Linked DNA regions of Homo sapiens. The protein of the gene in region 1 purifies or fractionates together with the protein of each later gene. This does not show direct contact. Each region holds a gene or a part of one and is shown on either strand. Other genes may lie near its edges. The genes, in order: UNC5B and CIP2A.

Region 1 (3,817 bases):
TGAGACTCATAACAGACTGAGGCAGGCGAGGCTCTCTCTGCAAAGAGGGATCTTTACTGGGGGTGTCCAAGCTCCCCTCAAGTGGCAGGCACCTCTCTCTCCTTTTCCCCACCCCACCCCATCCCTGGTGAATATGGGAATGAGCTCCCTTTACAGCACTGAGAATATTTTTAAGCTGTAAAGTCTGATGCTGGAGAAATCAAAACTGGAACCATAAAACCCCAGACCCTTAGAAGGTAATGTCAGCAAGTGACTAGCCAGAAAAGGCCACTTCAAAAGCTCTGGTTGGCCCTGGAAATCTCCTCCCACCCCACCTTTCAGCCCTTCCTGGAGCTTTTAATGAGCCTTTCCATGGCCTCTGGCTGGGATGGTTGAGAAGGAGTCGAGGTGTCAAGATAATACTTCTTTTTAAGGTGCAATTAAAATCAGAGTTTTTGTAGTGTCTCTGCTTGGTGTGTGTGTGTGTGTGTGTGTGTGTGTGTGTGTGTGCTCGCGTGCATGCGCCTGTGCACACACAATGATAGCCTGTCCTTGTCTCCCTCTGCACTCACTGTAGCAAACACCCATCTCACTTAAACAAATGGAAAATCAAGTGTCTTAATGGGTTTTCTCATTAAAGTGAAAGTACCACTGCAGGGGAGGAATTTCTCCTGTAATCTCTCTCCTCCACCTCTCTCCCCTCCCCCACAAACAGGGAATTCTGTAGGATAAAACAGTTCCCCTCTTTTCCAATCCATTTATTTAACTGTTGACACTTTGGGACAGGCCAACTTGCCCAAGGTCACACTGGGACTCACCGGTAGCGCCAGGACTTGAACTGAGGCCTCACAACCTCAATCTAGTGCTTCTAGCTCCTTCATTCCATCTGGGCTGGAGACCCACCATCATGGGTGTGGGCTTGAGACTCTGAAATTGAGGCACCACTTAAGGCAGGCAGCTAAAGATAAGATCGCTTTGATGGCTGCTTTAGACTGGAACTCATGGCAGGATGGAGGAAAGAGGTTGAGAGTTGGAAGGGTGAAGAGGTGTTCCAGGAGAGGGGGAACAGGGCAGAGCCAAAGGTCAGGAGTGAAGCTCTGAGACCAGGCAAGTGCCCAAAGGTGGCTCCCCCAACCCCCAGCATTGGCCTCCTGAGCAACTGCCCTGACCTGGGGAAGGGAGACAGGTCACAAGCCAAGCTCCCTTGGGCTGCATGGCCAAATAAACATTAGCATTTTATAGCTCTGCACCCATTTGTAGAGTTGGGGACAGAATATGTTTTTACTTTTTACTTATATTCAAAGCTTTAGGAGCCAGTGCCCTCCCCCACCTTTGTTGTTGAGTTTCTCCTGGACCGCAGGTCTAGTGACCCTTTTCCTGGGTGTCAGGCTTAAGACGAGGTCTGCCTCCTACGCCCCATTCCCTGAGCCACAGAGGTTTTCTAAGGAGGTTTGTGGGCTGCCTAAGACTTTGGGGATGGGCTGGGGGGAGATGGATCATTTCCATTCCAAGTGCTCTCGGACCAGGTTAGTGATTCTGAATAGACAGTGCTGGTACCTCCCTCCCCCAGGGCCTGCAGGCAGCCCGTCTTTTGACCCTCAGAGTTGGGGTTGGGTGGAAAGGAGACAGTTTGGAGGCCACTGCCGCCTTCAGGAAAGGGCAGAGGGGGCTGGGTCATAGGCTGGGACTTGGGGGTGGGAGCCTGGGCCCAGGGAAACTGCTGCCTGGGCAGATGGCCCCCAGAGGGTAGGGAGGAGAAAGCCGGCGCTCAGGCCAGAGCTGGCGCTTCTCTTGGCGTCCTCCTCCTTCTCCTCCTCACCAGTTTCCTAAACAGCTTCCACAAATAGAGTCATTAAAGCTGTGAAGGCAAAATGAAACCAAACAAGTGCGTTCTGTGCTTTTCTGTTTCTTATTTTTTTAAGGAAATTAAAAATACCGTAATTAGAATAATACAAGGAGAGAACACTTTGCGGAAGGCCTAGGGTAAGGGCACTTCCCACCCACTGGGTTGGCTCAAGAGGTTGGGACTGGGGCGCCACCTCCCGCCCCCTTAGGGTCTGCGATCCGCCGGGGGCGCCGCGGGCTTTTCCGCCGGCTCCATGCATTTCCCTGAGGCAGGATCTTTTTGGGGGAAGCTGGCATCCCGGCGCTGGCCTCGGCCCCCGACTGGGAGTTGGGTGGCGCTTGATTGGAACTCCGGCCCGGAGCCGCCTCAGCCGCTGCGCCCCCGCGGGCAGACAAGCCCGGGCGGAGCGCGCTAAGCCACAGGTCCCCGCGGCGTTCCTCCCGGTCTTCGGGGATGCTAATGGCAGCGAAAATATTTGCTGAAGTGCAGGCATAAATCAGCCGCCTCCCCGCTCCCCCACCCCCACCCCTTTTGTTTCCTCTTCCTTCTCTCCAAAAGCGCTGGGCTGCTGGGCGCCAGAATTTACCTTTTCCATCTTAGCGGCCTGATTAGCATCGCCGCCGCTTGTGGGGCTGGATTCTACCCTCTCCTGCGTCCCCCACCCCCAGTCCCCATCTCCACCTCCCTCCCCAGCCGAGCTAAATCGGTCTGCGGAGCCCCGGGAGCTCTAACGCCACCGCCTAGCGAGTGAGTGCACGGAGCCGCCCTCCTTCTCACCTCCCAGAACAGGCTGCCCCCAGTGCTTGCAACTTACCCCTTCGCGGCGCTGCACGGCTCGGCTCACTTCTCCAAGAAGGCAGGCTTGTGGGTGTGAGAGTATGTATTAAGGAGTGTGTGGGGGGTGAGAATGTGTATTAAGCAGGTGGGCGGAGGTGGGAGTTTGCAGGGAGGGGAGGGTGGGTGTGGTGTTGCACTGGGGTGTCAGGTGTGTGTGGGGGCGAGGCATGGACTGGGTGTGTGCCGGAGGATGGATGTGTGTTTGAGGAGGGTTGTGCCTTTTGTAACTCAGGAGGTGTGATGTATAGGCTGTGTCTGTGTTTGGGTGTGTGTGGGGTGGGCAATGTCACATGGGCACACTTGTGGTGTGTTTGTGTATAAATAGGTATGTGTAATGTGGAGACAGTGAGTCACCACCAGGCATGGGAAGCTCCATCCATTGTATTCCGTTGGGGATTCCACTTCAGGATGGGACCCAGGCCATTTGCCCATCAGCACTTAAGAGACCTCATTTTGCCCCACACCTGCACTGTGAGCAGGGTTTGGCCTGAGTGCCAGGTTCTGCTGTTGGAAGGGCAGAGGACAGCTTCCCCTGCTGAGTGCAGATGGGATAGGCCTGCCTGCAGGTGGGTCCTGGTGCTCCAGGGGGAGGAAGGTTGGCAGAGATGGACCCTAAGCCAGCCCAGCAGCTTGGGCTACTGCCCCCAGGAAGATCAGAGTCCCAGACCTGGAGTCTTCTGCAGTCAACTCCCAGCTTCCCCAGAGCATGGGAGCGGCTGTGGTTTGGAGATCTGCTCTCTGACCTGGGTCAGCTTATGCTTCAGCCTGTCTCCCCCAAAGGGAGTGAGTTCTCCTCTAGAGTTTGCTGGAGAAGGGGCCAGCAGAGCTTGAGTGGGTGGGATCCCCAGTGGAGAACCCCATCTCAGGCTGACGTGGCTGGGGCCTGGGACTCTCAGCGGTAGCAATTTAAAGAGGACAGACACACCCACACACATGCTGGACTCCACTGTCGTTACAACTTTCTTGGTCACAGAAGCGCTTACCTGCTTTCCCAGGGCTGTCCACAGGAAGGACTTCCATCACTTCAACTCTAGGATAAGATGGACTGTTCTGGAGCAGGGAGGCCTATAGGAAAATCACAGTCCCTCGCCCCACCCTGGTGTGCATGTTGCTTTACAGTTTACAAAACCCTTTTATATGTGCAGTCTCACTTTG
Region 2 (3,817 bases), on another chromosome or scaffold:
CAGTGAGGCTGCAGATTCCCCTTTGAAGCTCTTAAGGTTTTGTTTCATGTCAGATTACCAGTTTATGCAAGCAGGCCATCACAAAATAGAGCAGCTTTACAGACCACTTTTAACTTGTAACTTGAAAAGCTTCCTGTGTATTTTTGTTGTTGCTGTTAAAAAAATATTTATTATAAAATTAAGGGAATTTTGGTTATATGTTCTCTAGGTCTTACATCCCATACTTTAACTCTTAAGGTATGATGACCTAAATTGCTAATTCTGAAAAGTGGAATCGCTAAATCAGTGAATAGCATATAGCATGGACCAGCACTTTTTCTTATAGGTCAAGATAGTAAGTATTTTAGACTCAAGGACCTATCTGGTCTCTGTCACAATTACTCAATTCTGCTTTTATAGAGTGAAAGCAACATAGACAGAGTATAAAAATGAGTGGGTGTGGCCATATTCCAATAAAACTATTTACAAAAACAGATGCCTGTCCACTGGCCAGTTTGCTGATCCCGGTATACAGGGAATATCTTACCTGTTTATCAACTACTTCAAATTATTCAAACCATTTTTACAAATTCATACATATAAATGACTTAAAAAAATTTTAAACCAGACTCCTAATAGACATTTAGTTCAGAGAGCCCTGAAATCTGAATTTTTTTTCAAACATAATTGCAAATATTCTTATTGCTTGAAAGTAACGAGTATAGTAGAAAATTTTGCCTGGTTGTCATTTTTCCACTTTCTGATAAAAGTTCAGATTTTTTTCTTTAGGAACTCTCCTATTCTCCTATCCCAACTAACTTTTAGTCCACATCGTTCTCATGGATAACCCAGGCCTGGTCAATGACTAATGCTTAGACCTTTTCCTTAAACAGTCAGGAAGGAAAAGCTCTTTCTATGGAGGAACTAAACTGGGAGGATGTAGGCTTAAGAGTGTCCAGAAGTTATCATTAAAAAGAAGTGGCTAGAGACATAGAGGGATAGTACCTGAAGAACATTTAACTGCCTGGATCTAGCTTTTCCCTGAGTGAGTATACATCTGAACTTTTCATTTATAAGAATCAAACATTTTTAGAAATCACTTGAAAAATTACTATTACAATGAAGTCTTCAATTCACTAATTTGCTTGTGTATCTATACTGAGGACTAAAGAGACATAGCAGGGTATTCCAACACCACAAGAGATACACTGCAAATGATTACAACTCACACTAAAGCAGGAAAATCTGGCAGTGGAGCAGCCTCCAATAATATTCTCAGTCCAGACTGTACTTGTTCTCTATTATCTGACGTTAAAGCAAAAGCCAAAGGAGTAATCAAACGTGGGTCCTAAATAAATCAGAAACCAAAAAAGAAGCAGCAGAAAGAATAAACAATGTCAGCTCTTTTAGATAGGAGGTGAGTAAATATATGTAAATCTTAATTCTAGGCAAATTCTAAAATGTTTCTAATGTTTGAATATATTATAGTCTATATAGTTTGAATATATTATACCTTGTTATAGCTGTTTACACTGCAATGCAATCAATATGAACAGTTTAAAAAAATCTGGCAAAGGTTTTGAATGCTTTCAAATGTGCCTATAAAAATTATGCCTTATATATTTTCGTGGATTAAAAAACCCACAACTGACTGATGTGTAGAATTAATGTTTTTTTCCAAGCTATCATTTAAAAGAAAAAAATGGCCAATCACTTCCAAATTAAGGCTATAAAATAAAAAGTAAAATTCAAATTAAATTAGAACATTTAAATTTAAAGATCGAAAAAATACAGTTACTTCAATCATTTATGTCAGTAAATATTTTACATTAGTATTGTAAGCCCCAAGTCATCAACATATATCTAAAATGTCTGGGACCAGAAGTGTTTCAAATTTCTGATTTTTTTCAGATTTTAGAATATTTACATGTACTTACTGGTTGGGCATCCCTAATCCAAAAACCCAAAATGCTTCAGTGAGCACTTCCTTTGAGTATCACCTTTGAGCCTCATTTTGGTACTTAAAACGTTTTGTTTTTTGGAGCATTTCAGATTTCAGATTTTCAAATTAGGGATGCTCAACCTGTATTATGAAAAACATCTTAAATAATGGACATAACATCAGTTTGACTCCTTTAAAAATACATTGAGATATTAGTGAAGAAAATATTAAAATATAAATCCCTTATAATTAAAATATTGAGTACCTTGTAGGTACTTGAGTATAATCCAGTGTCACAGAACTGTGATAAGAGCAGAGCTTTATCTCCAAAACCCTCAATGGTAAGCCTCATTATTTCCAGTTTGTAGTCGAGGAAATTGAAGTCGAGAGAGGTGAAATAACTTACTCAAGCCTGTACTAAGAACCAGTAGAGTCAACATTTGAACTCAGTCCCTTAATCTCAAAACATGCCAGTGGTCCCTGCCTAAGGTTTCAGTTTTGGCTTCTACACTGTCTATACAGTCACTAGAGATGTCTCTGTTAAGCTACTGCAGTAATTTAATTCACTCATTTTTGTTAAACATCTGTTGTAAAGGTAGGTGTTGTAGATATTATTACACAAAGTTTTTAAGAGGCTAATATTTTGGAGTAGTCTCCTCCACTATGCTTTAGCAGACCAGATCAAACCAGAAAGGAGTCACTTGGATGAGTGCCATGTAATCAAACTGCACTTTGAAATGGGCCAGTTTTCCAAAAAACCAGGAGATTTCAGTCAACCTGAGTTAGTATAATAAGGAAGCCCCCTTTATTATAATTCTATAGGAAAAGTAACTTTGAAATGACCAATCTGCTTTTAGTTCCCTATTTGTGCTTTCTTCAGCCCTTTTCTGGTCTATAAAGTCAACCTTCTCTGCTTAGCCCAGGGGAATGATTCATTCTATTTTATAGAATGAGGCTGCCAAATTCTAGAATCATAAATAAAAGCCAGTTAGAACTTTGAACTAAATTTGTTGTACTTTGCCTTTTGATAACAGCTAGAGATCATATTCAGCTACTATTATCATTGAAATTTGTGAGTTAGCTATTTTCTGCACAGCCCTTCTAATTATCACAATCCTTTTCTTCCAGCTGTCTCCCTATCCCCTTAATACCCTACATCAACCCTAACCAAAAACAAAAACCCTAAAACAAATATCACTCTTCCTCCAATGCCAACAGAAACAAATGAAGAAATATACAAATACAACACAAGAAAGGAAAAGGCTGAGGAAGCAGCACTATTGTGAACATTCTCTACATTAGTGTCATGAGCACTTATGTTCAATTCCTGTGAAAGTATATAAAATAACTGTGCAGTGAGACTATTATAACTGCTTAAGACAACAACTTTAAACTTTCTTCTCATTGCCAATTCTAAGAGAATTATCTTCTAAAGATTAAGAATATTAAAACAGAAACTTATATTAGGACCATTTATGTATGAATAAACTTCAATGTTTGAAGAGTTTAAACTCACCTGAAGTATTTTGTAGAAGCTTACTTCCATACCAGGAACCAATGGTTTAAGTTTGTTAATCAAATCAAGAGTTTTCAAAATTACATCAGCAGCAAGTTTGCTTTAAAGATAAATCACATTTAAATTAGATAACTGAAAAATTTCTTAGAGCTTGTTTCTGTCCAAAATTCTAAAGAAAATGAAAAAAACCAACACTTGTGTTTTTTAAATTCAAGATGATAAAGTCCTGTTTCTATTGAGAAGTAAAAATCTCAATCAACATTCTTATAACTCAAGATCCAAAGAGAACAAACTGGCATTAATAGCCTTAGTTTAGACAGTGTTTCTTTTACTACCAACCTGCTTCAACTTTCTGTTTCAAGTAAGTAGTAGTTTCGAAA

The links.
Region 2: the proteins of UNC5B (region 1) and CIP2A purify together in Homo sapiens (affinity purification with western blotting, with the first as the bait; one study listed by BioGRID). This does not show direct contact.

Annotation. Positions count from the first base shown.
Region 1 is NC_000010.11:71,215,355-71,219,171, forward strand, and holds part of UNC5B (netrin receptor UNC5B isoform 1 precursor), read left to right. Parts: intron 1-1,869; exon of another isoform or gene 1,870-2,281; intron 2,282-2,639; exon of another isoform or gene 2,640-2,874; intron 2,875-3,817. UniProt on the Homo sapiens protein: Receptor for netrin required for axon guidance. Mediates axon repulsion of neuronal growth cones in the developing nervous system upon ligand binding.
Region 2 is NC_000003.12:108,561,918-108,565,734, forward strand, and holds part of CIP2A (protein CIP2A), read right to left. Parts: intron 3,538-3,817; coding exon 3,438-3,537; intron 1,328-3,437; coding exon 1,209-1,327; intron 1-1,208.